6 separate regions of the Homo sapiens genome follow, and regions 2, 3, 4, 5 and 6 are each linked to region 1. The links come from fine-mapping of genetic effects on gene expression. A gene starts in region 1. Each other region holds a variant in brackets. All regions are shown on one strand. Distances are between the middles of the regions. Region 1 holds the start of THBS4-AS1 (THBS4 antisense RNA 1). Region 2 overlaps LOC105379048 (a long non-coding RNA gene). Region 3 has its middle 60 kb from the start of BHMT. Region 4 has its middle 35 kb from the start of THBS4-AS1. Region 5 has its middle 28 kb from the start of THBS4-AS1. Region 6 has its middle 42 kb from the start of THBS4-AS1.

The links. PIP is the estimated chance that this variant, and not a neighbour inherited with it, causes the effect. A credible set is the group of variants that fine-mapping cannot tell apart.
Region 2: its variant is the best candidate, but not a certain one, in a credible set for the expression of THBS4-AS1 in visceral fat (GTEx, PIP 0.54).
Region 3: its variant is the best candidate, but not a certain one, in a credible set for the expression of THBS4-AS1 in prefrontal cortex (BrainSeq, PIP 0.77).
Region 4: its variant is the best candidate, but not a certain one, in a credible set for the expression of THBS4-AS1 in whole blood (INTERVAL, PIP 0.64).
Region 5: its variant is the best candidate, but not a certain one, in a credible set for the expression of THBS4-AS1 in whole blood (TOPMed, PIP 0.50).
Region 6: its variant is the best candidate, but not a certain one, in a credible set for the expression of THBS4-AS1 in monocytes (BLUEPRINT, PIP 0.51).

What each region holds. Positions count from the first base shown.
Region 1 is chr5:80,080,993-80,086,353 of GRCh38, reverse strand. THBS4-AS1 (THBS4 antisense RNA 1) reads left to right here and starts at 2,689. Exons shown (of 8, transcript NR_109930.1): 1 at 2,689-2,854; 2 at 3,817-3,994. THBS4 (thrombospondin 4) reads right to left here. Exons shown (of 22, transcript NM_003248.6): 21 at 3,809-3,948; 22 at 3,067-3,274. The coding sequence ends at 3,213. RefSeq lists an enhancer at 234-528 and silencers at 1,961-2,175, 3,291-3,380.
Region 2 is chr5:79,872,319-79,877,679 of GRCh38, reverse strand. The region is part of intron 1 of LOC105379048 (a long non-coding RNA gene); the gene reads right to left. Among named protein-coding and RNA genes, the nearest start is that of LINC01455, 62 kb to the left of the region's middle. The variant C/T (reference allele first, on the strand shown) is at 2,116.
Region 3 is chr5:79,168,742-79,174,102 of GRCh38, reverse strand. It overlaps the pseudogene RNY3P1. Among named protein-coding and RNA genes, the nearest start is that of BHMT, 60 kb to the right of the region's middle. The variant G/A (reference allele first, on the strand shown) is at 2,381.
Region 4 is chr5:80,116,171-80,121,531 of GRCh38, reverse strand. It overlaps a transcript of SERINC5 not described here. Among named protein-coding and RNA genes, the nearest start is that of THBS4-AS1, 35 kb to the right of the region's middle. The variant T/AAT (reference allele first, on the strand shown) is at 2,818.
Region 5 is chr5:80,108,827-80,114,187 of GRCh38, reverse strand. It overlaps a transcript of SERINC5 not described here. Among named protein-coding and RNA genes, the nearest start is that of THBS4-AS1, 28 kb to the right of the region's middle. The variant GA/A (reference allele first, on the strand shown) is at 2,502.
Region 6 is chr5:80,122,691-80,128,051 of GRCh38, reverse strand. It overlaps a transcript of SERINC5 not described here. Among named protein-coding and RNA genes, the nearest start is that of THBS4-AS1, 42 kb to the right of the region's middle. The variant T/A (reference allele first, on the strand shown) is at 2,422.

The DNA.
Region 1 (5,361 bases):
CTCACTTCTGGACCAGATTCTTTTTTGCTGCTTGAGTCTGTTCCCAGTTATCTTCTAGCCTAGGCAATAAAAAATGCCTACAGATGTTTCAATAGCAGGTGGCTGGATTCTATATCTTCCTCATTCTCTTTAACTCTATAGCCTGTCTCCAAAATTAACCTAAGGATAATCACCATAATACTTCTGGAGCCTAGGACTAATAACCTGGATGGGGAGAAGGAAGAGTTTTTTTTTCCTTTTTCTTGAGTGTAGGCAAAAAGGGCTGCACATCCCTTTGTGCACCTGCTCCCATGCCCCCAGGCCTCCTCTGGCTGCCCCCAGTGCCCTCATCCTGCCCCCAGAGATCTCCCACACTTCCCGTGGGATTCTACTCAGCCATGATCTTTTCCCTACAGTGACAATGCCTCTTTTCTTTCCCAGCCACGCCTCCCATTCCCCCACAGTGACAATGCCTCTTTTCTTTCCCAGCCACGCCTCCCATTCCCCCAGTACTTAAAAAAAAAAAAAAAAAGTGAGACAGGATCTTGCTATGTTGCCCATGCTGGACTTGAACTCCTGGGCTCAAGTGATCCTCCCCATTCAGCCTCCCAGGTAGCCAGGACCACAGGTGCACACCACCATGCCCAGCTCCTCAGTCTTCTCGATCTCCATGAAAAGTCAGGAGGTGAATGGGCATTGGAATGAATTCATACTAGTTGGTGAGAGACTGATGGCCACTCAGTCCTAGAGGTGTAAGATTCAAATGAGGCTCTTACTAACCTAATGGAACTGTAATAGGAATTTGAGTCATTGTGCTAAGGTTGAGTATAACAAGTATCCAAGAAGCCCAGGGAGTTACCTGGGGGAGAGCATACCACACCTGCTAGCTCATCCCGTCAGTCTGCAACTGGCTAGCTTCTCTCAAGTGCTTCCTGATTTTCACTTTTTTTTTTTTTTGTTTTTGTTTTTGGAGACACGTCTTGCTCTGTCGCCCAGGCTGGAGTGCAGTGGCACGATCTCAGCTCACTGCAACCTCCGCCTCCCGGGTTCAAGAGATTCTTGTGCTTCAGCCACCTGAGGAGCTGGGAGTATAGGCAGGAGCCACTGCACCTGGCCTAATTTTTGTATTTTTAGTAGAGATGGGGTTTTACCATGTTGGCCAGACTGGTCCCAAACTCCTGACCTCAAGCGATCCTCCCACCTAGGCCTCCCAAAGTGCTAGGATTACAGGTGTGAGCCATAGCACCCCACCCATTTTCACTTTTCTTACTTCATTTCTTATGCAAGAAATTTTCTGAAAGCCTCAAGTTTTCTACATCAGCTTCAAAAATATAAGGAGGGCCAACTAGGAATAGGACAAGGTAGAATAATCACTTGTGTGCTGATAAATATTTAACAACCAGTTCTCTGGAGCCCTGATTTGTAGTGTTTGCCAGTTTCTGTGTAAATACTCCCACCATGGCCAATTTCAAACTACCAACCGTTTAACTGGCTCACAATATTCCTAAAACTTGAATAGTTGGCTCTTATGAGCTGGTAGGAGTTGGCTTCAGCACACTGCTGGTTCTACATGCGTCTTTGTTTCTTGTTTTGCATAAATAACAAGTTTTGTCTTCCCAAAAATGTAATAAGCTCCCTAAGGGATGGAATTATGTTCTGGATCTCCTGTGGGCCCATGGTTTCTAAAATAGTTATAGACACAAAAGATTTAACCAAGAGAGTCTGTTTCCTGTGGACATACTGCGTTCTTGGGCTTGCACAGCCGACAACAGGGAGGCTGCCCCAGGGGTGGGCATGGTGTGGGTTGCTGCCTCCTTTCACCAGCCTCACTCTCATTGCCCAGGCTGGAGTACAGTGGTGCAATCTCTGCTCACTGCAGCCTCTGCCTCCCCAGCTCAAGTGATTCTCCCACTTCAACCTCCCAAATAGCTGGGACTATAGGCAAGTGGCACCACACCTGGCTAATTTTTGTATTTTTAGTAGAGATGGGTTTCGCCACGTTGGCCAGGCTGGTCTTGAACTCCTGGCCTCAAGTGATCTGCCTGCCTTGGCCTCCCAAAGTGCTTGGGACCACAGGCAAGTGCCACCACACCTGGCCCCATTGGAGTTTTTGATGTAGGAGATCAGATGTCCTGGATTACAAGGCCACACACATCTCCAGGCTGTACATGAGAGGAGGATGTCCAGAAATCCTCCAGATCTCATGCATGCACCATTGTATTTTCTCACTGTTAAAGTCATGATAAAACTGTGGTGTTTTTTTCTTCATACATGATTTAATATATCTCTAGGAATTCTGGAATAAGAAAATATATAACCGCACAGCAATATTCTTTGAAACAAAATTTCTAGAGAATTTATAAAAATTTGCTTGGATCTTGATTTACAATTGAAATACAAGAAAGGCTAGTGTACAAATTAGGCAAGTTTCTGTGCTGTACATCCAGCTACTGGTACCACAAATAGAGGATATGTTGTGACTTTTTGAGTTGAGGAGGACTTTTATGATCATGTACACTCTACTGTCCTTTAAGAGGCATTCATTCATTCATTCTTCGTTTATTAATTCAGTAAACATTTACTGGCTATTTACTACATTCCAGGTACTGTGGGGATATTGATTGTAATGACATGATCCTTTATTGTCAATATGCTTACAGTCCACTAGGGGGAGCCAAATATATAAATAAGCTTAAGAATTACGTTGAAGGGGCCAGAATAGAAGTCTGTGGAAGGTGTGGGATGGGATGACAGCATCAGAAAGAATTGGGCAAATCTGTCCCAGGACTAGGTCAGAAAAACGCCTCCCTAGGGAAGGTGCCACCCCAAACACGTGTTTCTGAGACCCCTTACCCGAAATAAGGAGGCTGCCAAGGTGAGCATGGAACGGTTAGGCGTTTTGTATGGAGCAAACTGGGGGGACCCCAGCTGAGACCTCTGGCCTGGGCCTTGTGATTCACGCATAGGCTCATCTTATCGGCCACCGGGTCTGAGAAGAAACTACCACCCTGCAAGTTAACAGGGATCCCTCCGAGAACGGGCACCTCAAAGCCTGAGCCACGTGAGAGCAATGTCTGAGCAACACGGTTTTTAAAAATGATCTCTTCTCCTTTATTGCCACATTCACATAAAACGTTTTGATATATTTGGGTTGGTAAAAGCTAAAGAAAATTGAAGTTAAAATATATATGGTTTTAGTGTTCCGAAAAGCAGTTACAGATTGCTTCCTTGGTTTAATTATCGAAGCGGTCGAAATTCTGGGTTTGAAACTCTTGGAAGTCCTCAGGGATGGTGTCTGCAATAGGAATGGGCACAGGGAGGTTAGCGAGGCTCCTTCCACCCCGGACCCCGGACCCCCGCCCGCGGCTCAGGCGTCCTGTAGGGGGCGCTGTTAGCCCGCCCAGGACGCCCCGCAGGCCCTCGCCGCCATTTTCTCCTGCAGGCTGCTTTGCAAACCGTTGGCTTAAAGCCCAGGAGTGCTCCTTCCCGGCCGTGCAGAAAATCAGCAGGCAGAATGGATTTTGCATCTGTGATTATGTTTTAACCACATGAAAATAAAGGCTTCCTGTAAATTAAATCTGACTGGATTTCTCACTGAACCCCAAACCCTAAACCATGCAGTTAAATTCTATGGGTCTTAATTTCCACATGGATAAAATAGGATAAATGTGATCTGCTTTTTACTTCTGGTACACAGGGACTATCAGGTTTTAATGACTATGTGGTATGAGCGTTGGGCTTTTGGGGGGGAAGTGCGGTATAAAAATAAGGTGGCAGTGTTTGACTAATTCTAGTAACAATGTTGAACAGTAACGAGAATGCACATTACCATTGCAGCGATACTTGAGGTTGGACCAGATGATGTTTTCTTGAGAGAAGCAGAAAACGCCAAGTCGGCCTCCACGCATTGTGGTGTCTATGGTGACGCCAGAGTCAGCCACCAACTCAGAGCCTTCATAAAATCGTACCCTGCGGACAACACGGCCGGAGGGGCCTCCATGAAATCCAACCCGGGGTAAAGTGCCCACTGTGAGGCCCAGGGGCCCCACTTCTTATACGTACCTGCGTCTTTCTTTGCTCTGTTTTAGGCTCCATTTTTCGCTGACCTGGATTGTACTGTAGCTGTTGCCACTTACTTACTAGACTGGAAGTCCTTGAGGGCAGGGACCGTGTGTGTCCGTGTGTGTGTGGAGGGGGGTGGGGGGTGTTTCTTCCCAACTTCTGTCTCTCACAAGGCCTAACATGATGTTGGTCACACTATCAAACTTGAGTTAAAAATCAAACCAAACCAAACCTGCTATCTTGAGTGAGAAAGTTTTGTGTCTTATTGTCATGTGAGTTGCCTTGTCTAGATACCATGCTTAAAAACTTTGGCTTTTCCTTTGGTCTGATTTATATCTTTTGGTGGAATCTCAGAGCAATGATTCTCCACAGGAGACAGCACTCCCTAAGTAGAGTTGGAGGAATCTGTGGGGACACTTTGGGTTGTCACAGTGGCACTGAGTGATGGCAGCCAGGGATGCTGGATGGCGAGCAATGCCCTGGCGAGAACAATCAAAACCTGTCCTGCATTCCATACACTTCTGGAGTGTTCCTCAGACACCAGGGTAGGTAAAGAGCAACTATCAGGGCCTAGAACCTGACTCACTTTCACTTGTAAACAGCAAGTATATTTTGCACAAATTTTAATATAAACTATATTTTCCAGGGTAAATTGAGAAAATTTGTTTGAAAATTAACATTCTAAAATGTGTACCATTTGAGAAATTTACATTGCTGTCATCAACCAGTGTAACAAACATTTAAGTCACTGACACAACAGTCTGTTAGAATGTCACCTTCGTAGTGATTCTAGGCATGGGTGCAAGTGTCTGTTTCATTTTGTCTTCTGGTGTGGCTGTGCTCAAATATTTAAATTATTTTGTTATAAATTATTCTTATTTCTCTATGATATTGTTAGGGCTCACATTGATTTTCTAGATTATACGTGTAGGTAGGTTGTAATTTCTATGATTCCATTTTGGGACGGAAAAGGGGGCATTTCAAAATATTTATAATAAAAAAGGGGCATTGGGCTTAATAGGGCTGAGAACATGATCATCTCACTGTGAGACAAAAAGAGTACATTTGACATAATGTCACAAAGAGAAACAAAACATGAATTTGCCCTCATGATTTTCTTTTTTCCACAAGGCTGCTTTCCTGCCCTGATGAGGAGAATGCACTCAGTACTCCTTCCTAAATATCCTACATAGGCTAGGATGGGTGTTGATCTGCAAGTTCAAATGAAGAAGAACACTATCTACATTTCAAAGACACAGCCCTAAGCCTCCTAACTCCCGAGAATACTTAAAAAACAACAACAAAAAAGTCCTATAAAGA
Region 2 (5,361 bases), 210 kb after region 1:
TGTCTCCCAGCAAAACCTTATTGCCACTGGCTATTAATGTAATCACTTATTCTGGGCCTGTTCTTCTTACCAGACTCTAGGTCCCATGAGGGCAGAGGCGACCGCAGTCCTACTCCCTGCTGCATCTCTAGGGCCCAGTCAGGGGCCCTGGACATACTAGCTGCCCCAAAGCTATTTTCTGAATAAAAAGCTGCATTGCGGCCCATCAAAACACTTTACATTTGCCTTTAAGTTAATAGCACGTGTAGGTTGGGCACAGTGGCTCACGCCTGTAATCCCAGCACTTTGGGAGGCCGAGGCGGGTGGATCACTTAAGGCCAGGAGTTCAAGACCAGCCTGGCCAACGTGGTGAAATCCCGTCTCTACTAAAAATACACACACACACACACACACATACACACACACACACACATAAAAGCATGTATAGATATTTTTAAATTGACTAACAAATTTTTGCAGTCAATCATTTGAAAGTTAAGTTCAAATGATTTTCTAAAAAGATGTAAATTGGGGTTGAAACCCAAGGTTCTCGGCTTCCAGGAATTTTTCTCTAGGGATAGTTATTTAACTGACCGAGCAGCACCCCTCATTATTCTTGGATTTTCCCATACTTGCCAGGGTCTTACTCTCCTTTCTCTTCCTACAATTCATCATCTTCAGAATCTCTACATATGGGCCTGAGCAGACCCCTCATATTGGTTTGAGTTGGACACCATTTTGATCATTAGACCTTTGTTTGCTGTTTGGTGGTTTTTTGTTGTTGTTGTTGTTTTTCAGAAACACGCAAATGTTGTGTTTGATCTGTGGTTAAACACTTCTTGAACACTTCAGACCTCGGCTTCTTGGTGATCTCATAAATTTTCCACAGACTGTGTGTCATTCACAACCTAAGGATCTGGAAGGAAACCCAGCTTTAAAATGCACTTCCCAGTGATTTCAGCCTGAAAGGTGATATGTCTGTTTTTCTAACATCTCAAAGTCACTGGAATGTGCATTGGCAATGTTTCTAGACCAGATTTCTGGGGAACTGGCTCATTTGTCTGAGAGACACAGTTAAGTTAAAGACACTAAAATCTCAATTCTCTTGGCTACTTCACTTCAACTACACAGATGGCTGCTTTGGAGACTAGCATATATATTAGCTGAGATAAACAGGAATATGTCCTGGCAGAAGAGTATTGTCCAAGTGATATTAGAAGCAAAGCTTCTGAGAATGTCATTAAGAATATGTCCTTTAAGTGGTGAGACCATTGGTTGATGTAACTCAACATTCATTCCTTTATTCACATGTATTTCCTGCACAGAGGCTGCAGGCCAGCCTCTCTGCTAAGCTACATGAATCAGGCACAATCTCTACCCTGGAGAATTTTATAGTCCAGTTGAGCAGACAAACAATTATAGTGCAGTGGTAGCTTTGTGTGTGTGCTTGGTACAGCAGGCTTTGGGGGCACAGAGTGAGGAGTGACCACCCCTGCCCTAGAGGATTCAAGAAAGGCTTTCTAGAGGAGGCTTTGAACTGGATCTTGAAGAATAAGTGGTAGTTTACCACTCTTGGGAAAAAGTGGCAAGGGAACCTAGAAGCAACGGCATGGCAAAGACACAGACTCAAGAAAGAAGACTCACTGTTCCAGAAATATTTAGGAGCTTGATGTGGCTGGAGCACAGGTCCTCTGGGGGCAGCAGTAACATTTTCATGGGAACATGGTAACTTGCTCTTCATAGGCTGATCCTAGTGACCATGACATCTAATATCTGTGAATTTATCTGACCTATTCTCGGACCCATTTTTTACTTCCATGCAGAACACCTAATGGGGGTAATGGGTTCCACTTACAGGCTACAGGCTGTGTAAAGATCTATTTCCTTTCAGTTGTCCTAAAATACTTCCTTAAATGATCACCAACAGGGTCATTTTTCCCTCTTTTTATAATTGCAGTGTTTTGGCACTCCTACCTAATCCCCAGGCATCCTATAGATAAAGAATGGATGTGAAAGGCACCACTGAAGCCCTGGCTGGGGCAGCCATGCCCACCTAAAGGCCAAAACCCACCCCCGCTCCACCTTCCACCTCACACGCACAGGCCGCATGCTGCCTTTTTGTAACTCTTTTTCTCT[C/T]TGATGACCTCCCTTGATGTTAATGTTATTCTTTTATTTTTAAAAAAATAAAACAAAATCCCCAATGCATTAATGTGCAATGAGAACTAGATCTGCCAAGTGACTCACAGCAGCCCGAGCAGGACAGTCTCCCCATGCAGCTGGGAAGAATCTGAGCCTCGGCTGCTGATTAGAAGGATGGAGCTGGTGAGCGGCATCGGGTGCCGGCAGACTGCAGCGTCCATTGCCGCAGTAACAACACTCCTGGCACCTGGGCTTCTCCCCAGTCAGGACTGGGATTGGCCCTGCCAAGGTGACACTCTGGAGAGCCACCTTCTTCTGATACCTGTAAGGATATAAATGTTAGGGAAGGACAAAGCTTTTATAGGTGATCTACAAGATGGCTTTACAAAAAAGTTCCTTTGGGACTTTGTCCTGAAACAGGAAGCTTTTAGCCAGAGCCATTCTGGAATTTTAAAAAGAAGGGACAGGATTCTAATCTCAAACAACCCCTGGAATCAACTTTTGACTCCTCCTGTCTGACTTTTCCTCCTCCTGCTGGGACAATAGAACTTGCCCGGCTCTACCCAGGGCCCTTTCCCTTTTTTCTTTCCTGGCCTCTTGGCTCAGCTCACCTCCCGCTTCTCATCCTCCCTGAGCGATGTCACACATGCCCATGGCAGGCAGGAGAGGAGAGAGGTTGGATAAGGAACACGGTGCAAGCCTGACTCCACATGAAGGAGAGATGGGAGGAAGGATGGAGAGAAACACTGTAGACCACCCAGCAATGTAAAGAAGCTCAGCAGCGTTATGGGGGTGTTCTTGAGCAAAGGTGGCCATCAGAGTTGTCCTGGCTTCCAAGGAACAGGCTGCCCTGGCACTCCCACCAACCTCAGCCATTGCCTTGGTGTAGCCTATGGGAAGCATGGCCTCCATACAGGCATGGTGATGGATTGCAGAGTGCAGCAGCTGGGCTCCTGGTCAATGAAGTTCCTCCATCTTGGAGGTCTGCGAGGCTCATACTCATGGCTGCCACACTGGAGGACTCCATGTCATCCTTGCCTGGCCAGCTTCTACTGTCTTCCAGGTCTTAGTTTAAATGTCACTTCCTTAGAGAAGCCAACCCTGACCTTGGGGTTGCCCAGGCCCCCCTGCTGTCTACTCCCAGAGCGCACACTTCACTAAAAGTTCCTGTTCAACTGACTCCTCCGATGCACTCTGCACTCCAGGAGAGCTAGGCTGAGTCCACAGTACTCGGCAGTACTTGGCCCCTAGAAGCCACTCAGTATGTATTTCTTGAATAAATGAATGACTAGTTGCTGGTGCTTGTGAGACAGCTCAAATTGTGCAACAACCTTGGCTTTAGGGAATATGCTTCTTCTGCAATGGATTGTTCCAGGTAAAAGCTTTGCCTTTATGGGGCATTTACAATTTTCAGGCTGAGTTTTCAGAACAACTGAAAGGACCCCTTGAGGGAAACATTTCAAATCAGGGCAATGTGCCTGAGCCTCTGTGGCTATTTCCCTAACTTTATGCCTTAGAATAGGGTCTGGAGCAAGAGAATTGGGGACAATGGAATCCGGTGAAAATCTACTTTCTAATCCTGCTTCGGGCACTAACAGGGTCTTAGATTTATTCTCTAAAACCGGTGTTCATACTGCTCTTTCTCCTTGGGTTAACAAGAGCCCTAAAAGACATGCAAGATGTAAACATGTTTTGGGCGTTTCTCAATGCCAGCCCAATCTCGGATTGTCTTGCTGTGGCTGTTGCTTGTGGACTACAGATTTCAGGGTGCAAGCAAGTAAGTGAAGCGAAGATGTGGATTGGGACATCAAGATTCCCCAAGATGTTTTGTGGGTGGCTGTGCCTTGGAAAATAACACAGGAATAAAGAGAAGATGGGGTTGCCTAAAGCAGATCAGAACTGTCTGACGAGTAAGGAGGGATGTGTAAGCCATGGAAGCTCATTCACATGATTTTACATCGGGTGTAAAAATAGCTGGAACCCTAGTTCCAGCTAATACTCTTCACTGGGAAAAATGTGGGCAGCTCTGTGGTAAGAAGCAGTACTTCCTGATAAAATCTGTCGATCCGTTTAAGATGCTCGGAACCCAGTCCCTCAAGATGTCTACAATGCCTCAGCCAAGTTGGCCAAGGCCCTAGAAAACATTACATGCTGCGGAGAACAATGTGTATTGGCAGAAGCCACTCTCATGCTCTGTGTACAGCTCAGTTCAACCTCAGATCACCACGGACAACCAGTGGGGGCCCCTCGCTGGTCCCAGAGCACCCACTGGAAGCACCTAGGGCAAGAGCACCTTTCTGGGTCCCCGAAGTTGCGTGGCACACTTGGAATAAATACAGGCATCAGAGAATCCAGAGAGACCCAGGTTCAAGGCCAGACTTCACCAAGTCAGTTCTAGGGCTTTGCACTATTTCCTTAAATATGACTTTTTCATCTGTCAAATGGAGCTACAGCAAAATCCCTCACAGGGTTGTGATAAGGATTTCAGATAATGTATGTCAAATATCTAGCCCACAGAAGAGTTCAATAAGTCAGAACTATTATTATTTTAACAAACTTGTGTTTGGATGCTGGTTTTGCCGCTTACTAGCTCTCTGATCTTGAGAAGTTTACTTAGCCTCATTGAGCCTCATTTTCCTTATTTTTAACAGGAGAAAATAGTACTTAACTTTCAGTAGTGTTATAAGAATTACAGTTAACGTAAGAAAGGTATCTGAGTATGTTCCTGGCACAGAGTAGTACTCAAAAAAAGTTATGTACTATCATTTTTTGTAAATCAAAACAGGAATGAAAATTATTCATGTTGGGTCATATCAAGCAAGTGTGCGCGAGGCTAACAAGCCATTTGAATTGTTCTGTGGGAAATAAACTCTCTTCCAAAACTGGCTGTCTCATTTCCCCAGGTTAGATGCGTTCTGAACCTAAGACTGACCCAGAACTTGGAAGGGTTGGGCCCTACCTACCCTCACTCCCTCTATGGGGCTCTCCTTCCTTTGGCCACTTTCCAAGGAGACATTTTCTCCTCCAGCCCCAGGTCCCCTGAGGAGAGCTGAAGCAATAGGTCACTATCATTTAAACTGCTGCAGAATTTGCAGACCGTGAGACTCCTGTCTCTCCCCACTCTGCCTGGCTCATCCCCAAGAAGAAAGGAAGCCAGAGGTGGAGGAGGTTATAAAACCATTTTATATCCATCCTGTTTTTAATTGATTTCACAGCAGGAGAAGAAAAACCAGAGTGTTTCCC
Region 3 (5,361 bases), 910 kb after region 1:
TGAGCATACATTTGGAGCATTTTGCTTTTGGGAACTTCAAAGAAGGTGGCAAACTGTCAGTAATTACAGGCATCATTATCCTTGTGTTATTCATAATGAATCAAATAGAATGAGGGCGGTGCCTCCAGTCACGCAGGAAACTTGAGCTGGAACCCTCAAGACGTGAATGACAACACTAGGGCAATTAGAATCAAGGCTTTTTTAGAATGTAAGTAGCACTACTTACAGGAACATTGTTATTTACATACACAAAGTAAATATTGAAAGATTGGCTTAGGCTAAAAATACTCCAGGTGAGGTTGTAGGACTGGATACTGAAAGAATGAGTTCATATTGTGGGCTTTCTTTTTTTTTTTTGAGACAGAGTCTTGCACTGTCACCCAGGCTGGAGTGCAGTGGCGTCATCTCCGCTCACTGCAACCTCTGTCTCCTGGGTTCAAGCGATTCTCCTGCCTCAGCATCCTAAGTAGCTGGGATTATAGGCACCCACCACCATGCCCGACTAATTTTTTGTATTTTTAGTAGAGACGGGATTTCACTATATAGGCCAGACTGGTCTTGAACTCCTGACCTCGTGAACCACCCGCCTCGGCTTCCCAAAGTGCTGGGATTACAGATGTGAGCCACCACGCCCGGCCTTGTGGGCTTTCGAAATAGAAAAATACTTTTTTCTCATGTTTATTTACGATTAAAGCCATTTTTTAATTCAAGACACATAGGCAAACGTAATTTAGAAGAGAGTTAACCAAAAGTTTGTCCAAGAAATGACAAATGTAGATTATAGCCAAGTACATGTCTCAATTTATAATATTACAATCTTAGGCAAATTATACTTTGCTACATTTTAGCCATCTTATAGGTATTATATTTGAAAATTATTTTGACATGCTCTGTTTTGTGTAACTTTTTTTTAAAAAGTATCCTGGGCAAGGCAATTTATGTATCATCTATAAAACATGGCAAAGTAATTCAATTTAGAATATTTTTCTGGTAGGTCAGTCGAACAAATAAAACTTTCCTATAGATCAAGAAGTTGCCATTGGTCTTCCTGCCCATAGTAAAGCCTTGAATAGAGCCAAGGTGCTTTATTTGGAAAGGAATGAAGGAAGTGTCTCTCCTCTGCCAGGGAAGGAAGCCCACAGTGATTGAGGCAGTTTGAATCTATGCTTTCTATTTTAAAAAGTTCTTCTTGTATAGGCATTTCTCTTTGCCTTTGACACTTTCTGTTGTGGGATAATCCTGCCAGAGTGTTACTTGGAAGAATATATCTATATATCTATATCTATCTATCTATCTATCTATCTATCTATCTATCTATCTAAAATAGATATATCTGTGGGTTTTTTGTTTTGTTTTTTTTATAAAAAGCCTCCAGTGGGATATATCTATATCTATATCTATGTGTGTGTGTGTGTGTGTGTGTGTGTGTGTGTGTGTGTGTGTGTTTTAATGCAGGGAAGGCTGCTCTATAAACATGACAAATGTATGGCATCATTCATTCCATTAAAAGAAAAAAGACAAGTGTGCTGTGGAAATCTTGATATTCTTTGGTTGAGTCCTGAGGATCAAGGCTGAGGAATGTGACACCAGTGAGCTCAGCAGCCTGCATGCAGCAATAGTGAAGAGAAATCTGGCCAGTGGGGCAAAACTTCCCTATCAACCTCATGGCAGCCTGACCCTGCAGACTCCTGTCTCCCAGCCCACCCCTCTAGTCAGCTCCCATTTCGGGGCTGCTTATGCACCTATGAGGAAATAACAGGTTTCTCCTCTGCTCATTTTATTAAGGTGGCATAAATTTCTCCTATGAACAGACTCTTCCAAAGAGTAGGGAAACTCTTCATTAAATGCTCGTGCAACTCGACAAACCGTGTAGGTGGCTTGATACTCTACTGGCTAGAATTCAGGCCTGAATCAAAGGACTGGGAGCTGGAGGGAACTTTAAGGACTTAAAAAAATCCAATCTCCTTGATTTACACATGAAGAACTGAGACCCTGTTACAGCCACAGAGTCAATTAGTGGCAGAGAAATGGGACAGGAATGGAGTGTCTTGACCAGGATTCTTGTAAATAAAAGAGCAACTGATTATCTCAGAAGAGCTGAGAGTGCTGCCTCCAGGCCTATGCACATTCCTATGTGTAGTAACTAAGCAATCTTGGTAGGAAACATAATTTTAGATGGGTTGATTTGGGGCTTCATATTTAAAGAAATGAATTGTGAGCCTGTCATGTGCAAACAGTGCCAAACAATTCTCTTCGCACTGTTTTATAAAACAATCATACGCCCCACAGCTTTTCCTTATTGGGATGTGTCCTTAAGCGAACTCACGCAGATTAAACATTTCATCTTCTATCCCTTTGAGTGTCTCACTCACACACTGTG[G/A]AAACTAAACTTGAAATCCTGAATTATCTGTACAGTATTTAAAGATAATTCCTTTTCTAGAAGATATTCTTTTTTTTTTTTTTAAGAGACTGAGTCTCTCTATGTTGCCCAGGCTGGTCTCAAACTCCTGGGCTAAAGCGATCCTCCTGCCTTGGCCTCCCAAAGTCCTAGGATCACAAATATGAGCCATCATGCCCAGCTCCTAGAACATATTATTTATCTTCACCTTAAGACTAGACAGTTGGTTATATATAGTGGGAAGCCCTGTACTTTGTTTTCCAAGGCATCCTACCCAACTAACAAGTTGGAAATTCTTGCAACTCTGTCTTTCATTTTGTCTGATATGTTTTGTGTGGTCATAGTAAATTTACACAAAGCAAAATATGTTCAGGAAGCAGGAACAGACAAAAAGAAACACTTTAGTACTGGCATCCTAGCAGCAAATTACGTTGCTTTGGTCCTGCTCTCCATAAATACATAGAAAGGCAGGTTGCAGATATTGGCTCTATGAAAATCATAAAGCAGATGAATTTTTACAAAATTGTGAACCTATTATCTGCCAGGCATTTTTCATATGTTCTTTCATTCTAGAAAATGTTTTATTTTTCTGCTGGTTGATATCTGTCATAAAAACTTATTCTTGGAAAAGGATTTTATGTTGGTTATTTATATTTTAACTTATGCATTTATTTACTCAGTAAATATTTTTTGACCACTTCTATGTACCAGACACTATGCTAGGTGTTTGGATGCAGTGGGGAGAAAAAAAACTGCACATGATCCATGACTTTATGGCTTAGACTAGTGAGGGAGATGATATAATAACACATATATATGTGTCAGATTCCAACTTGATGAGCACTATGAAGGACTGTACAAAGTACTAGGAGATAGGAATTTGACCTGGTGATAAAAGCCAATAAAAGCTTCTCTGGGAAACTGATGCTTGAGCAGAAATGTGGAGGAGTTGGAGTTATTAAGGAGGGAATAGTGTTTTAAGTCAAGAAAACAGTATATAGCAAAGTTTCTGTGATAGTGGAGGTCAAGGAGTATAATATGTATTAAAAATTTTGCAGGCCGGGTGCGGTGGCCCACGCCTGTAATCCCAGCACTCTGGGAGGCCGAGGCAGGGAGATCACCTGAGGTCAGGAGTTCGAGACCAGCCTGGCCAACATGGTGAAACCCTGTCTCTATTAAAAATACAAAAATTAGCCAGGCATGGTGGCGGGCACCTATACTTCCAGCTACTTGGGAGGCTGACACAGGAGGACTGCTTGAACCCGGGAATTGGAAGTTGCAATGAGCCAAGACTGCGCCATTGCACTCCAGCCTGGGCAACAAGAGTGAAACTCCATCTCAAAACAACAACAACAACAACAAATTTTGCAGCTGGTCTGAGTGCAGTGGTGTTTACAACTAATTGATCACAACCAGTTACAGATTTCTTTGTTCCTTCTCCACTCCCACTGCTTCACTTGACTAACCTTTGAAAAACATGAGCTTTTGCTCTAATATGTTATATAGGTGTGGCTGGGGTTAGAAGGGCTCTAGATAGACTGGTTAGGAGGTTATTAAATTAGACAAAGTTTGGCTGAATGATATGGAGAAGATGGAAGACACTGGAGAGTTCTGACAGAATTGAGGGATGGTGTGGGCATGGAGGAGAGAGAGAGCTGTCATGGATGACTTCTGCCTTTCAGGCTTGTTCAACCAGATGACTAGCTCACTGGGATACGGGACCATAGAAACCAAGTTAGGAGTATCAGTGAGTGTGGGGAGTGGGGAGAGCATGAACTCATGTTAAGTTTGGATGGCTTTGAGAATCCCAGGAGGACAAGGCAAGTTGTGAGTTGTATAATCGAGTTTGAAACCTGAGGACACAGAGCCTTGCACTGGAGATATAAATTTGTGAGTCCTCTCTGTGTGGATGGTGATGAAGAAATTGAATAGAGCACCTGGGAAGATAATATTTTATAATGAATTTAAATAAATGTTTTTGCTTTCCTTTGAGGATGTGTCTTTTAAGCTTTGTCTCCAAGTACAGCATATATCACTTTGATTCCTGATCAAGGTCTTTCAGGTTTTAGAGCAGGTGGATAAACTCATGAACCTGGGCAGAAATGTCCCTAAAATTATACCACATAATTCAATCCTGCTGGGCTTGTTTAAAAGTTAACTGAAAAGACATGAAAGTTTTTGGTGTGTGTGTGTGTGTGTGTGTGTGTGTGTGTGTGTGTTTTGCAAGTGGCGGGTGGTGCAGGGGAAACAGGGTTTCGCTTTGTCACCTAGGCTGGAGTGCAGTGACGTGAACATGGCTCACTGCAACCTTGACCTCTTTGGCTCAAGAAATCCTCTGCCTCAGCTTCCTGTGTAGCTGGGACCGCAGGTGCACATCACCACACCCAGCTAATTCTTTTTTTATTTTTTTCGTAGAGATGGGCTCTTGCTGTGTTGCCTAGGCTGGTCTCGAACTCCTGACCTCAAGCAATTCACTCGCTTTGGCCTCCCAAAGTGCTGGGATTACAGGCATGAGCCACTATGTCCAGCCTGAAAGATATTTTTTTGAATATTTAGGAAAAATCAAATTTAGCTGTCTGCTTGGGAGGCAGATAGTATGCATGGAGAGAAGGATAGGTAAAATGCAGAGGCCTACACAGAAAATTAAATCCTATGTTGGCAAACAAACCGGTTAAGATGATGGAAGATGTCCTTTCGATCTAAAGCAGTTTGAAGATGTTTCTTGCATGAAGACTGAATTAATCTGATTAAGCAATCTAATTAATCACCCCTATTGTCTTTTAGTAAGTTAAAGGTATTTATTCTATGTCAAGGTGTTCACATTCCTTTGAAATGTAATCTTTCAAATTTACTTCATTTTTTATCTTATTTTATTTTTTGAGATGGAGTCTTGCTCGGTCACCCAGGCTGGAGTACAGTGGTGCCATGTTGGCTCACTGCAACCTTCACCTCCCAGGTTCAAG
Region 4 (5,361 bases), 35 kb before region 1:
CGAGATGTAATCCTCAGTGTTGGAGGTGGGGCCTGGCGTTTGGGTCATGGGGGTGGATGCCTCACGCCTTGATGCTGACCTTGTGATAGTCAGTGAGTTTTTGTGAATAACTAGGGGACAGCAATCTCAGGGAGGTCATCCTGAGATTCCTCACCACCACACCAACTCTCACTCTTGATTCTACTCTGCCATGTGAGATGCTTGCTCTGGCTTTAAGTAAAAGCTCCCTTAGGCCACCCCAGAAACTGAGCAGATGCCAGCACCTTGCTTGTGCAGCCTGTAGAATCATGAGCCAGTTAAAACTCCTTTCTTGGAAAAACAGACAAACAAACAAACTCCTTTCTTGGCTGGGTGCGTTGGCTCATGCCTGTAATCCCAGTACTTTGGGAGGCCAAAGTGGGCGGATCACCTGAGGTTGGGAGTTCGGGACCAGCCTGACCAACATGGAGAAACCCCATCTCTACTAAAAATATAAAATTAGCCAGGTGTGGTGGCACATGCCTATAGTCCCAGCTACTCAGGAGGCTGAGGCAGGAGAATCACTGGAACCTGGGAGGCGGAGGTTGCAGTGAGTCAAGATCGCGCCATTGCACTCCAGCCTGGACAACAAGAGCGAAATTCTGTCTCAAAAAAAAGAAAAAGCCTCCAAAACTCCTTTCTTTATAAATTAAAGTCTCAGGTATTTCTTTATAGCAATGCAGGTATTTCTTTTCTTTTTTTGAGACAGAGTCTCACTCTGTCCCCCAGGCTGGAGTGCAGCCTGAAACTCGGCTCACGCAACCTCTGCCTCCTGGGTTCAAGCGATTCTTGTGCCTCAGCCACCCGAATAGCTGGGATTACAGGCGCCTGCCCCCACACCTGGCTAATTTTTTGTATTTTCAGTAGAGATGGGGTTTCACCATGTTGGCCAGGCTGGTCTCAAACTCCTGGCCTCAAGTGATCCTCCTGCCTCAGCCTCCCAAAGTGCTGGGAGGTGTAAGCCCCCACGCCTGGCCATGGGTATTTCTTTAAAGCAACTATATTATAACCTAATATGGTATATGAGCTTATTTCTCGTTTGCAGAAGAGTCCAAGGCAGGCATTCTAGTTGATGGATAGCTTTCCCCTACCTAGTAACTCAGGCATACAGGCTCCTTCCATGTTGTAGATCCCCAGTTCCCTAGAACCTGTCACCTGCATCCAAGTGATGTAAGACAAAAGAAAACCTGGAGGAGGCATATCTGTTCCTTAAGCCTTTGCCAAGAATAGGTACTATAACTTAGAACCATATCCCCTTGGTGAGAACTAGTGTGGCCGTGCCTGGCTGCAAAGGGTGCTGGGAAATATAGTCTAGTTGTGTATGAACAAGAAGAAGAAATGGATTGGTGAATAGTAGCAGTCTCTGCTTCAATCTACTATGAGCAGGCACTTTACATAATTATCATTGAATTAACACCACTACCCTGACAGGTATAGCCCCCCCTTTATAGAAGAGGAAGTTGAGATCCAAAAAAATGAAGTAACTTGCCCAAGGTCCCACAGCTATTATGTGGACGACCCAGGATTGGACCCTATTTCTGTTTAGTTTCCAAACTCTTACTCTTTCCAGTATTACATATTGACTCCTAGGTAGCAAGCCCCTACCTAGGTTGGACTATAATTTGATTGCTATGGTTGAACCAGAATTACCAAAGGGGGTTATTTAAAATGGTTGGTTCCTATCCCCACTCTGTTGAAGCTTTGTTTAACCAGCCTGGTAGAGGCCCAAAAATGTGCATTTAAACAAGCTCTCTGGGTTATTCAGATGTGCTGTAATGTTTGTAATATACCAGAACAGCTTTCCCTTCTGGGATGGGGAAATCATTAAGGTAAATTCCCAGTTGCCATCTGGAAAAGTCCTCCTCTCTGGGATTTGGGATCATAATCTATTTATGAATTTCTGGAACTTCTCCAGTGTAGCTGACCTTCCATCTGTAGGAATGGCGTCATGTGGAGGGATTCAAAGAATAGTTAACAACAGTGCAGTGAGTGCAGTTAGTTCTATGTGCCTGCCCTGGTGGCCCTGTTCTCTGCTGACAAACCCACCCAGCTGATCCCTGCACTGCTTAGATTGGGGTCACTATTGGGTGCCTCTAATTCGCTCCTTTAGATCCCTGTGGAATCTTACATAATTGGTGATATTGGCTGTCTAGGCCACTGGTTCAGCCAGTTTGTCACCCCACCTTCACTAAGGATAGACTGTTTGCAGACTTGTGCTAGACTTGTGAAGGAAGCAGAGATAACTCCAGCTCTTAAGAGCTTGTAGACTAGTGGGGTAAACCTACCACTAGTAATGAGAGCTACCAATTATCCAGTACTTTTAACATATTAGCTTATTTAATTCTTTCAAACAACCCCGGGACATAGCATTATTGGCATTATTGGCCCTTTTCCAGAAGCTGAGGTTCAAAGATATTAAATAACTGAATCAAGGTCATCCAACTAGTGAGTGATGGTGGGGCTGGTATTGGAATCCAGGTCAGTCTACTTCTAAAGTCCATGTTCTTAGGTACTCCAAGTAGTGGACCAAATGTTGGTGTAATGGACTGAATATTTATATCTCCCCAAAATTTATATGCTGAAATCCCAGCCCCCAGGGTGATGGTATTTGGGAGATGATTAGTTCATGAAGATAGAACCTTCATGAATGAAGCTGGGTGCAGTGGCTCATACCTATAATGCCAACACTTTGGGAGGCCGAGGTGGGTGGATTGCTTGAGGCCAGGAGTGCGAGACCAGCCTGGCAGCCTTGTCAACATGGCAAAACCCCATCTCTACAAAAAAAAAAAAAAAAAAAAA[T/AAT]TAGCTGGACATGGTGGCATGCGCCTGTAGTCCCAGCTACTCAGGAGGCTGAGGTGGGAGGATCACTTGAGCCTGGGAGGCAGAGGTTTCAGCTAGCCAAAATTGTGCCACTGTACTCCATCCTGGGGGACAGAGTGAGACCCTGTCTCAAAAGAAAGAAAGAAAAAAAAGAGACTAGAAGCCTTATAAAAGGAAGAGAGATCCCTGGCCCCTTCCGCAATGAGGACATAGTTAAAAGACCTCACCAGACACTACAGCTTCCAGTGCCTTGATCTTGGACTTCCAAGCCTCCAGAACTGTGAGAAATAAATGTTTGTTGTTTGTAAGCTACCCAGCATCTGGTATTTTGTTATAGTTGCCTGAACAGTCTAAGATAGATGGTTCCCAAAAAGACGTCTACATCCTAATTTCCAGAACTGTAAATGTTAACTTTGCAGACGTAATGAAATTAGGGATCTTGATTTGAGGAGATCACCCTGGATTAGCCAAGTTATTATTATTATTTTTTTTTTGAGGTGGAGTCTTGCTCTGTCACCCAGGCTGGAGTGCAATGGTGTGATCTCAGTTCATTGCAACCTCCGCCTCCCAGTTTCAAGCAATTCTCTTGCCTCCACCTCCTGAGTAGCTGCAATTACAGGAGCCCGCCACCACGCCTGGCTAATTTTTGTATTTTTAGTAGAGATGGGGTTTCACCATGTTGACCAGGCTGGTCTCAAACCCCTGACCTCAAGTGATCTGCCCACCTCGGCCTCCCAACATGCTGGGATTACAGGCATGAGCCACCATGTCTGGCATGACAAGTGTTTTTATAAGAGACACACTGAGGAGAAAACAGACACAGATGAGATGATAAGAAGACTAGGTAGAAATTGGAGTGGTGCAGCTACAAGCCAAGGCATGCTGACAGCCACCCAAAGCTGGAAGAAGTAAGTAATAGATCACCCCCTAGATCCTTTGGAGGGAGCACAGCCCTGACAACATAGTACTTTCAGACTTCTGGTCTTCAGAACTGTGAGAGAGTAACTTTCTGTGTTGTAAATCACTGGTTTGTGGTCTTTTTTTTTTTTTTTTTCAGTAGCCACAGGAAGACTAGTACATTCTATTTGTTTTATAAGAGCAAAACCACAAGGCAGCATATAATTCAAGGCTGAAGGAGTGTGGCATGCTGACAGATGGTAAGAAAAGCTGAATGTCAGAGAAAGATACCAAATCCAGTCAGTGGCTCTGTGTGATTATCAGTTAGTATGTGTCCTTTTCTCTTGTGTCCAACTTACATCATCACCATCACCTATTATTGAGCACTTAATATGTGCTAGGTACCAAGCTAAGTGCTTTGCCTAGATCACCTCAGTTAAGCCTCGCACTAATTCTATGAGGTAGGTGCCAATATTTGCCTATTTTACAAATGAGGAAACTGAGGCTCAGAGAGGTGAGGTCCCATCTGCAGTTGGACTGTGAGTAAACGGCAGAGTGAGGACCAGAACTCAAGTGTGTCTTACTGCAGAGTCTTGGCTTACGCAGTTCCTAGCCATCTTCCGTGTTAGTTTGTTCTTCTGCATATAGTCATTGTAGTTAAGAGCTCTGGGCCAGGCATGGTGGCTCACACCTGTAATCCCAGCACTTTGGGAGGCTGAGGCGGGCGGATCGCCTGAGATCGGGAGTTTGAGACCAGCCTGGCCAACATGGCGAAACCCCGTCTCTACTAAAAAACACAAAAAATTAGATGGGCCTGGTGGCACTCGCCTGTAATCCCAGCTACTTGGGAGGCTGAGGCAGGAGAATCAGTTGAACCTGGGAGTCAGAGGTTGCAGTGAGCCGAGATTGTGTCAGTATACTCCAGCCTGGGCGAGAGAGCAAGACCCCGTCTAAAAAAAAAAAAAAGAGCTCTCCAGTTTCTGGTCACCAGAAAGTCACTTGAGCCAGTGGGGGTGGAATGAGGCCTGGCTCTATGAACCTGAGTCGTCTAGTGTAGGACATCCCCCTCCAGGCCAGAGCAGCCTGCCTCTGTGGATGTTTGTTAATGAACGAGTGAACATATGGTTGGGCTGCCAGCAGAGCTCTGCCTATCTCAGGGCCACAGGAGGCATTTATGTCATCCTCTTGGTAGGTATGCCACTAGCGTCTGAGCTCAGTTACTGAGCTTCTTCCCACTGAGGAGAAAAGGCAGGTAAGCCTGGCTCTCACTCTCTGCCTCACCCACTAAGCCTGGAGAGTGGGGAAGGAGGGGTATGGAGATTATAGCATGCAAGTCCCAGGGAAGGGAACGGAGAAAATGGACTGAAGTTTCTGATAAGGTTCATAGTGATCTGGATGGCCTGGGCCTGTCCCATTCTCTGTCCAGGAAGAGGAAGGGAACACAAGGTGAGATTTTGATTTCTATTTTGTTCCCAGAAACTATCAATGCTGAAGACTTAAGGCCTCTTAAGAATACCCTTTTTGCAAGAGGGGATGGAAACATCTCTGGCCCCAACTCCGACAGGAAAGCCTGGTTTTAGCATTGAAAAGATGATTGAATACAGCTTGCCTTTTCTCCAGGGAAGAGAG
Region 5 (5,361 bases), 28 kb before region 1:
AGTCTTTATAGCAGTATGAAAACAGACTAATACAGACGGCCAACATTTTGGTTAGGTGAAGACGTTTAGCTTTCAGTTGTTTGTTTGGGCCCACTCCTTGTAACTTAGCATGGAGACGGTGCTGAAGAAATGGGGCTAGGGCAGGTCATTGTTAATTGAGGGAAGGATCCTGGGAACATCGGGTTATCTTGAGGACACCCAGAGATGGGAGTGTGAATGGAAGTACCCAGAGTCTGGCAGCAAAGGCACCAGGCCTGGGGAGCCTCGCCCACAGGCATGGGTGGGGGGGCACACAGCATGGCAGAGGTTATGGGTGGGTGCCATCAGGTGGTGATGCATGATATAGTTTGGCTGTGTCCCCACCCAAATCTCAACTTGAATTGTATCTCCCAGAATTCCCACATGTTGTGGGAGGGGGCCAGGGTGAGGTAATTGAATCATGGGGGCCGGTCTTTCTCGTGCTATTCTTGTGATAGTGAATAAGTCTCATGAGAGCTGATGGGTTTATCAGGGTTTTCTGCTTTTGCTTCTCCCTCTTTTTCTCTTGCTGCTGCCATGTAAGAAGTGCCTTTCACCTCCTGCCATGATTCTGAGGCCTCCCCAGCCATGTGGAACTGTAAGTCCAATTAAACCTCTTTTTCTTCCCAGTCTCTGGTATGTCTTTATCAGCAGCATGAAAACAAACTAATACAATGCATATCCCCTCGTTCCCCATCCTTGCTCTCCTGAAAATGAGAGCACTGAGGATGTGTCCAGACCCGTCACAGAAGAAACATGAATGGCTATGCCACTCAGAAAAAAATGTTCAGCCACACGAGAGTCAAGCAGAATGCAGACTAGAAATGATACTAGTTTTACCTACCAAATTGGGAAAAAATAAAAGAAGATAATGGACAATGCTGATCATTTCTTGAAACAGGCACTATGGCTAGAGGGGATGAATTTGTTGAAGCTTTCTGGAAACAATTCAACAACATCTATCAGGAACTTTAAGAATATTTAACCTTTTGTTCCAATATCCCAATCCTGGAAACCTATTCTAAGGAAAAAAAGAGATTATAGGGTTAGAGATTTCAATAAAAACATGGCCAGAATAAAATTATTTATATTGGAAAAAGAATTAAACAACTTCAATGGCCCCAAATAGGGCAAGCATTAAGTAAACAATAAAAATATCCATAGGGGAGACTATTATGCAGCTATTAAAAAAATCATACTATTTTTGAGACACGGTCTCACTTTATTGTCCAGGCTGGAGTGCAGTGGTGCGATCACAGCTCACTGCAGCCTTGAACTCCTGGGCTGAACTGATTCTCCCACCTCAGCCTCTCGAGCACCTGTGACTACAGGTGTGCACCACCATGCCCAGCTAATTAAAACAATTTTTATTTATTTATTTATTTTTTAGAAATGAGGTCTCATTATGTTGCCCAGGCTGGTCTTGAACTCCTGGGTTCAAGTGAACCTCCTACCTCGGCCTCCCAAAGTGCTGGGATTACAGGCGCGGGCTATTGCACCCGGCCTAAACATCACATGAAGGGGTGGTTTGCCCCTCCACACCTGTGGGTATTTCTCGTCAGGTGGGACGAGAGACTGAGAAAAGAAGTAAGACACAGAGACAAAGTATAGAGAAAGAACAGTGGGCCCAGCAGACTGGCGCTCAGCATACGGAGGACCTGCACCAGCACCGGTCTCTGAGTTCCCTCAGTATTTATTGATTACTATTTTCACTATCTCAGCAAGAGGAAGCGGCAGGAGAACAGGGTGATAGTGGGGAGAAGGTCAGCAAGAAAACGTGAGCAAAGGAATGTGTGTCACAAATAAGTTCAAGGGAAGGTACTATGCCTGGATGTGCACGTAGGCCAGATTTATGCTTCTCTCCACCCAAACATCTCAGTGTAGTAAAGAATAACAGAATAAAGAATAATTGCCGCCAGCATATCTCGCCTCCTGCCAGTGTGGTTTTCTACAATCGGGTTTTATACCGAGACATTCCGTTCGGTATGAGACAGAGGCCTTCCTCTTTTACTAATTCTCCTCAGCACAGACCCTTCACGGGTGTCGGGCTGGGGGACGGTCAGGTCTTTCCCATCCCATGAGGACATATCTCAGGCTGTCTCAGTGGGGAGGAACTTTGGACAATACCCGGTTTTCCTGGGCAGAGGTCCCTGCGGCTTTCCGCAGTGCATCGTGCCCCTGGTTAATCGAGAATGGAGAATGGCGATGACTTTTACCAAGCATACTGCCTGTAAACATATTGTTAACAAGGCACATCCTGCACAGCCCTAGATCCCTTAAACCTTAATTCCATACAACACATGTTTCTGTGAGCACAAGGCTGGAGAAAAGTTACAGATTAACAGCATCTCAAGGCAAAACCATTGTTCAGGGTACAGATCAAAATGGAGTTTCTTAAGTCTTCCTTTTCTAAATAGACACACTTGTGATACCCTAACTTGTATTAACCTGATTGACTCTCTCTTAGCTGAGAAACCTGAACG[GA/A]CTCCATTTGGCTCCTTCATTTGCAAGACATCAAGGGCTCCTTACCCACCCCCTTCCTCAAGGAATTAACTTGTGCAAGCTGACTCCCAGCACATCAAAGAATGCAATTAACTGATAACATGCTGTGGCAAGCTATGTCCGCAGTTCCCAGGAATTTGTCCAGTTGATATTACCCTAAGCCCCTGTGTTTTTGTCTGGTTGATAGCACCCAAAGCCCAGCGTCTATCACCTTGTGATGGATTTAAAGCCCCTGCACCTGGAACTGTTTGCTTTCCTGTAACCATTTGTCTTTTTAACTTCTTTTGCCTGTTTTACTTCTGTAAGACTGCTACAGCTAGGCTCCCCCTCCCCTCTCTAAACCAAAGTATAAAACAAAATCTAGCCCCTTCTTCAGGGCCGAGAGAATTTTGAGCACTAGCCGTCTCTCGGTCGCTGGCTAATAAAGGACTCCTCAATTCGTCTCAGAGTGTGGCGTTTCTGTATAACTCGCTCGGTTACAACACAGTAACAGTCTGATCCCCCCTTTTTTTTCCCCTACATCATACTTTCAAAGAATAACTGACATGGATAAATAGTTTTCCTACAGTGTTAACTTTTTGGTGCTGGGGATCTCCAGTGCCGTATACAGACCACACCTGTGCATGTGAAAGATTGGAAGGATATTTTCCAAAGTGCTGAAACATCATTTCTGAGTTGTAGGATTGCAGGATTACTTCCTTCTTTACATTTTCCAATATTTTCTAAATATTCTAAAGTGAATTGCACAATTTTGATAAGGGGGAAAAGATGTCATTAAAAAATGATTGCACCTGCCTGACTGCAGCCAGTGCTCCCTGCTGCCAGTGGATCCTCTGCCTTTGGCAAGAGGCAGATTTCATGAGCCTGGAGACCCTGCCAGGAAAAAGTGCAAGGAATTAGAACAATTCACCCTGGGGTCTGGCCAGGCCCGGTGGAGAGAGGGATGGGGCAGAGAAGCCCATCTGGGAAGCATTTTTCTCAGGTACATCCCCAAATTGAGCTGTGCCCACCTATGGACTCCAAGGACCCCAAGTTAAAGAGCACTTGCTGGTGCCGGACTGAAGGCCCAGCTAAATGCCACCTTGACTCTGGGGCTGTGTGCCCAGTGCCACCCTGAAGAGTGAGGGGATGTGGCTGGACAGATGCTCGGGTAGACCCAGCTTCTGTCCCCCGCTCTGAGCAGCTCAGAGCAGCCAGTGAAGAGCAACACACTTCGCTTCAAAAACCCACAGAGCAGCTTGACAGGGAGTTCTGGTTTCTGCTCCAATGCATTTGAGACTGAAATTTCCCCCCAATGTATTGTCTAGCACTTTTCCACTCTGCTCAGTAACAGCAGCATTGCCAGGGAGCAGGTTAGACGTGCAGAGGCTCAGCTCCGGTTTACAGAATGAGAATGTGCAGTTCAGCAAATCCCCAGGGTACTCAGGAGCACTGAGTTTGCAGCACTGCTCAGCTCCCCTCACAGGGGGATGGACCTCAGACTGGGCTGGGCTCGGGGGAGCAGGGAGGAGGAGGAGAGCACTGAGGAGCTGCGGAGCGGGGGCCTGTGGGAAGCCCACTCCAATCAGGTGGGATGGAAGCAGAAGTGGCTCCTGAGGGGAAGCAAGAGCAGCTGGACAGAGCACTGAGTGGCCCTCGTTTCTGCCACTTGGGGTGAAAGAGGCGGGGCAATAGCTTATTCCAGGGCAACCTCCTCCAGGAATGTGTGGGGTATGGGGATAGTATCTCCCTGTTCCTCACAGGGTCCCTGGAGCTTGGTAGGAAGCAGAAGGTATTATTTTCATTTTCCAGATGGTTTTATAGGGGCTGGGGGAGGGAGCCTGGGAGGTTGCCAGCCTACTGGGAAAGCTCAGAGCCCTCTCCTCACTCCAATGGTGCCAGCTGGCTCTCGGGCCAGATAGGAAGGCTGTGCCCAGGCACACCATCATTCCAGATCCCAGGAGAGTTGCCAGGAATTGGGCTGCTGGGTTTTCTCATCACAGCTGAGGCCCTTCACTGGGGCATCTGGGAGGTACAGAGAACTTGGGCTACTTTCTTTTCTTTTCTTCTTCTTCTTCTTCTTCTTCTTTTGTAGTCCATTTTATTAATTTTCCTCCAGCTTTATTAAGGTATAATTGACAAAGATGAGCCACTGTCATTTTGAGGGGTGGTGGTTGTTCCCAAGGTATTAAAAATGCAGAAATGCCAGCCAGGCCCAGTGGCTCATGCCTGTAATCCCAGTACTTTGGGAGGCCAAGGCAGGTGGATCACTTGAGGGCAGGAGTTCAAGACCAGCCTGGCCAACATGGTAAAAACCTGTCTCTGCTAAAAATATATATATATATATAAATTAGCCGGGCCTGGTGGTGCACGCCTGTAATCCCCACTACTCAGGAGGCTTAGGCAGGAGAATCGCTTGAACCCCGGAGGCAGAGAGCCAAGATTGTGCCACCGCACTCCAGCCTGGGCGAGCGAGCAAGACTGTCCCATGAAAAAAAAAAAAAGCAGAAATGCCAAAACAAGTTAAAATGTTACAGTATATTTTTAAGAAATGTTACATTTTAAAAATGAATGCTTAGAAACACATCCCAGGGGCATATGGATAGAACTTTATACTAGTTTGCTAGGGCTGCCATAACAAACTACTGCAGGACCAGTGGCTTAAACAGACATTTATTGTCTTGCAGTCCTGGAGGCTGGAAGTCAGGGATCAAGGTGTTGGCAGGGTTGGTTTCTGAGGCCTGTCTCCTTGGCTTGCAGATGCCATCTTCTCCTTGTGTGTTCATGTGGTCTTCTCTCTGTGTGTGTCTGTGCCAATTTTCCTCTTCTTATAGAGACACCCTTATTGGATTAAGACCTACC
Region 6 (5,361 bases), 42 kb before region 1:
ACTCAAAATATTAGTAAAAATTTATAAGATGTTGATAACTAAGTTTGAAATAATGTTCAAATGTTTAAATTGTTAAATCTTTAAATTTATAATTTATTAAATTTGTAAGGTTAAACTTTTTAAGTTCAGTATGTTTTCAGTGTTTATTAAGATTTTGCCTATAGAAATGTGAGTCTGCTTTGTTGTTTTTTTCCTTGAGAAATCAATTAAAATTAGATTGTAGTTTGAAATGTCTAAAACTTAATTCTGAAAGTTTGATAAATATTTGGGAGTACCTTATCAAATTTACAAGCCAGTTGGGCATTCATCAAAACCAAATAAAAGTAGATAATAAAATATTAACAAAACTGATTTATAAATTAACACAAGTTTAAAGTCTTCAAAATTAAGTTTTAAAACATATAATTTAAATATATAAAATATAAGTTGAAATTAAAGGGAGTATTTATTTCAATGCATAAAGGCTCTCTTCAGACATAAAGAAAACTCAGATGACATTTTGGAGGTAGGTGGTATCAGTCAGTGTCGGCTAAGTTATGCTGTGGTAACAAGCAACTCCAAAACCCTCAGTGGCTTACAATGACTAAAGTTCAGTTCTTGCTCACATTGTGGGCTACCGGTAGCTTTGCTCTAAGTTTTCCATCCTGGGACCAGCAGTCTGTATTTGGGATATTGCTGGTTTCATGGAAGAGAGAACGAACATAGTAGAACCATATGATGAATCAGAGCTTCTGCTTCGAAGTGGCACACATCACTTCTGTTATCATTGCATTGGTCAAAGCAAGTCTCATGGCCACTCTTGAGGTCAAGGAGATGAGAATATGTAATCCTCCCACAAGAAGGGACACCTCAAACCACATCTCTAAGGCTGATGCAATGAAGTGGGGAAGTATTATCTTCCCCAGGGTGGGGCAGCAAATATTTTGAGTAATAAAATCTACTGTAATGGGGAATAGGAGGTTTTTAAAAAATTCTTACAACTTAGTTTTTTCCCTGTCACATAGGCTGTCAGTATATCCTAACTTACAGAAGTGATTGTGATTGTGTCTGGGTGTTGGAATTATGGTGATTTTAATCTTCTTCTTTGAAAGTTTTTGATGATGAGTATATATTTATTTTGTAGACAAATTAACAATTTTTAATTAAAAATTTAAATTATACCAGGCTTGGTATCGCATGCCTGTAATCCTATCACTTTGGGAGGTCAAGGTGGGAAGATCACTTGAGCTTAGGAGTTTGAGGCCAGCCTGGGCAACATAGTGAGACCCTGTCTCCATTTTTATATAAACAAATAAGCAAAAATTTTGATGAAAAATTTTTTTGTAACCAAATTAAAATTTATGAATTTCATTTGTACAAAAAAGGCAGTGGATAACTAACTTGTTTTTAATATTGGAATGGTAGTATGTGCAGAACAGTGTTTTAGAAAAATACATCTCACAACATTGAAGAAGAAAATGTATGTTGGAGATTTTGTGTTTTAGATATATCTCAACCTGTCAGCTTTGAAAGAATGTGGCTATGAAATGGAGTGTGTTTGTTAAAGAAATAAGTAAATCAGTAAGTGAATGTTGGTTAGTTGGGTGGAGAAAGGCTTAGAAGCATCTAGCACTAAAAGATATATTCTTTTGTGGTTATCTGGCTGATGTCATGAAATTCTGACTTATACCACCAGGGAAGCTTACATTTCTCTTTGGCAGGGAACTTCAAATTTAGTACAGTTTGGACCTCACTGCATAGTCATAGTAAAAACTTTTGTACTTAATTGACTCTTCGTTTGCTTCTGGTTTTATAGTGGCCTTCCTGATGAACCAGCTTTTTATAATCCAAATTGGATCTGTGCCTACTTAATTGTTTCTGTCCCAATTCTACTTGGTGGTCAAGACTGAATCAGATTTTCGGTTCCTCCTTCTCCTCTCGTTTTGACTTTCCAGTGTATTCAACTGAATTTTCATCATAATGACTCCAAAGTACTCTTCTCTTCCTTTGTCTTGTGGTCACAAGAAAAATCACAAGATCACATTGATGGATGACTCATGAGCTCCTCATCTTTCTGATAGAGTCTCTGAACTGAACCAGCGTGAGTCTAGGTTTGCAGGAAGGCTTTTGATTCAGCCTTGTGATTCTCATGAATAGATGGCAATAGAATTAATTTCTCTCTCGATCTTGCTTTTCTTTTTCAACTAATAACTTTATTTACATCTATTTTCCTCCCTACCCAACCCACTGCATGTCCTTTTCTTGACCCAGGTGATGACGTTTCTTAAACCAGTTTGCTCTTCTCCGTATCCAAAGCTGCTCTCGTAGGTCACCATTATAACTCCACAGTTAATGCAGCAACTGCCCAGCTGAGTCTTCCCATCATCGGACGTCCCCAATCCATTCCAGCCATGGTGAGCTTTCAATAATGCAAATCAAGTC[T/A]TCAAGGTCATTCCTGTGTAGAAAGCCCATTGCCTTCTTCATATACTTACGGCTTTCAAGTTCCTTCATATCTAGTCTCTGTTCCCCTTTCTAGCCTACCTCCCAGTACTCTCACTCCAATATAGCTCATGTCAAACAGATACTACTTTTGGTTTCCTGAAATGCCTTTCCTTGACAGTGAACCTTGCTTCTGCCTGAAACACTCTCTCTTTCCCTATTTCTATCAAGCTCCCTGATTTTCAAGGTTCATTTCGGGCAGCATGCCCTCTAGGAAGCATTTCTTGGCAGCCTGATCCTCTGCCCAGCCTCTCATCTGATTTAGGCCATAGATTGAGCATAACATGTTTCACAGTATTGTAATTGTTCGTTTATGTGGTGGTATCTCCTCACATTGAGGGTAGAGATTGTGGTTTTGGTTTTTGTGTTTGTTTTATCATTGTATACCTAGCACCTAGCATAAGGTTGTGATGTACAATTGTTTGCTATATGAATGAATGAATGGATGGATGCCTTCACAAGAAAAATCGCTCACTAGACCATGTTGGTCAGTAGCAGGTACTGGGAGGCACAGAGTCAAGAGTCTAGCACGTGACACATGACAACTGTCTCACTGTGCCATCAGGAATGGAGTGGACCCCTATTGGGATGTCCATCCCCCTACCTTTTTTGGTTGGAACCATCCCTCTTCTCTCCCCTCCCCTCCACACAGTGACAGGGATGGGCTTCTGATTGCCATGTTCATAAACAAGACTACCTGCAACTACTCCCCACCCTGGGTGGGAGTTGGGCACTGTTAGTAAATTGGTCAAGGATGGTGCCTGACCCAAGGTGGTTCAGTCTGTGTCCTTCTCCAGGAACTTGGAATCAGGACGTACAGAGAGTTGCCTCTCTGCAGGTGACGAGATAAGCACAGGCCCTGTCCATGGTCATGTTTTTGGCCATTTGGACCAGAGAACCCGGTTTGCAAGAAGACAAGATTTCTAAGATCCAAGCTCGGATTGCTTTTCCAGACTCCGGCTCTAGGGTCTTCCCATGGCTGTGCAGCTTTCCTGAGCTTGAGGTTCCATGAAACACTCCTGCATCCTTACATGAAATTTCCTTGTATTTAAGCCCTAAATCTCCCTGAAAAACAAGGACTGTGGAAATAAATGAAGACCACCCAAATAAGAACAAACAAAGCCTACTATAGAGAGGTTGCAAGGTAGTCAGCCACCATCACTTGTGTTTGGCAGACACTTAAAGGCAGGCAGAGGTGTGGAAAAGCCTTGTGGTAGAAAAAAGGGAACACTTTGGGCGTGCCCTGAGACTGTTGGCACGGGGAAGCTGCAAGTGGGCCAGCTAGAAGTGCGGCATGCTATGTGATTGGTTGGGGGTGCCCATTTGGCTTTCTCTGGTTAGTCCAAAGTTGGAGGTAGGGGCAAAAATTATGGGAGCTGTCAGTTTATTAATCGAGTCCTGGCCATTTGGGGTCCATTGCTAAGGGGGTTATTGCTTTGCTTCCTGGATTGGTTACTGCAGATAATATGTTGGCTTCCCAGGCTAGTTGCCACAGATTGTGGGTCAGGGTTCTATTTTGATATCTAGTCTGGCCATCCGCATATTCAGTATCTCAGGACAATACCTCTCTCTCCTTCCTTCACTGGGAAACTTTTTAAAATCTTCTGAAATTTACCTGGTTAAGTGCATAATGTGTGCAGGAACAGTTTCAGCTTTCGGAAAGGGAGGATGTTTTAGAACAAGAGGCACAGAAACAAGGATATATGTGCCAGGCCAGGAAGCATTATTACAGGACACGATATCAGAATAAGCTACCTTCCCCTTCCATAACTTCCAGGGCTGGTGGAAAGGGGAGGTCAATACTGATGGACCCTGCACGTTCTCAGGTGCAAGGACCCACTGGGAGAGTGAAGGTGAGCACATTGGGCTTTGAAGTCATTTTGCTTAACTTTGTTTTCCTTGACAGCAGCTCCGCTTTTAAGTTTTGGATTTGGGGGCTGGTGAGATGGGGAGCTGGATCATCTCTGTTCAAAGAGCTGCAGCTGATGCCCAGACTATGTCACATTCTCACTATAAGGGCAGGAAGCTCCCTAACAGACAACTCAGCACAAGGAACTGAGCAAATGTAAAGCTAAGAGCATACTCAGATATCATCACTCTAACTTCCACCATCTCCCCATGTCACTTTTTATTAATAAAAAATAAGTGAGGAAGCTAGGCATGGAGGCTCACGCCTGTAATCCCAGCGCTTTGGGATCCTGGGATCCTCCCAGCTGAGATAGAAGGATCTCTTCAAGCCAGGAGTTTGAGACCAGCCTGGGCAACATAGTGAGACCCCATCTCTACATAAAAAATAATTTTTTTAAAAAAATCAGCCAAGTATGGTGGCATGTGCCTGTAGTCCTAGCTACTCGAGAGATTGAGGTGGGAGAACTGCTTGAGCCCACGATTTTGAGGTTACAATGGGCTATGATCACACCACTGCACTCCAGGCTGGGAAAGAGAGTGAGACTCCGTCTCAAAGAAAAATTGATGACAAAACAGATTAAGAGAATGTATTAGTTTTTTTATTGCTGCTGTGACAAATCACCACAAATTTAACAACATAAATTTATTAGTGGACAGTTCTGTAGTCAGAAGTCCAGGCAGGCTTGCCTGATTTCTATGCTCAGGAATAGCACAGGGCTGGAAATCAAGGTATTGGTTGCAGAGCTTTTACCTGGAGGCACTGAGAAAAATCTGCTTCCAAGTTCATTCCAATTATTGGCTGAATCCAGTTCCTTACAGCTGTAGGTCTGAGGTTCCTCTTTCCTTGCTGACTGTTAGGCAAGGGCCACTTTCAGTTCCTTGAGGTATTCCTTCTCACGTGGTGCTGCCATCTTCAAGCAGCAATGGCACTTGAGTCTTCCTCATACTTCAAATCTCTCCGAATTCCCCTTCTGT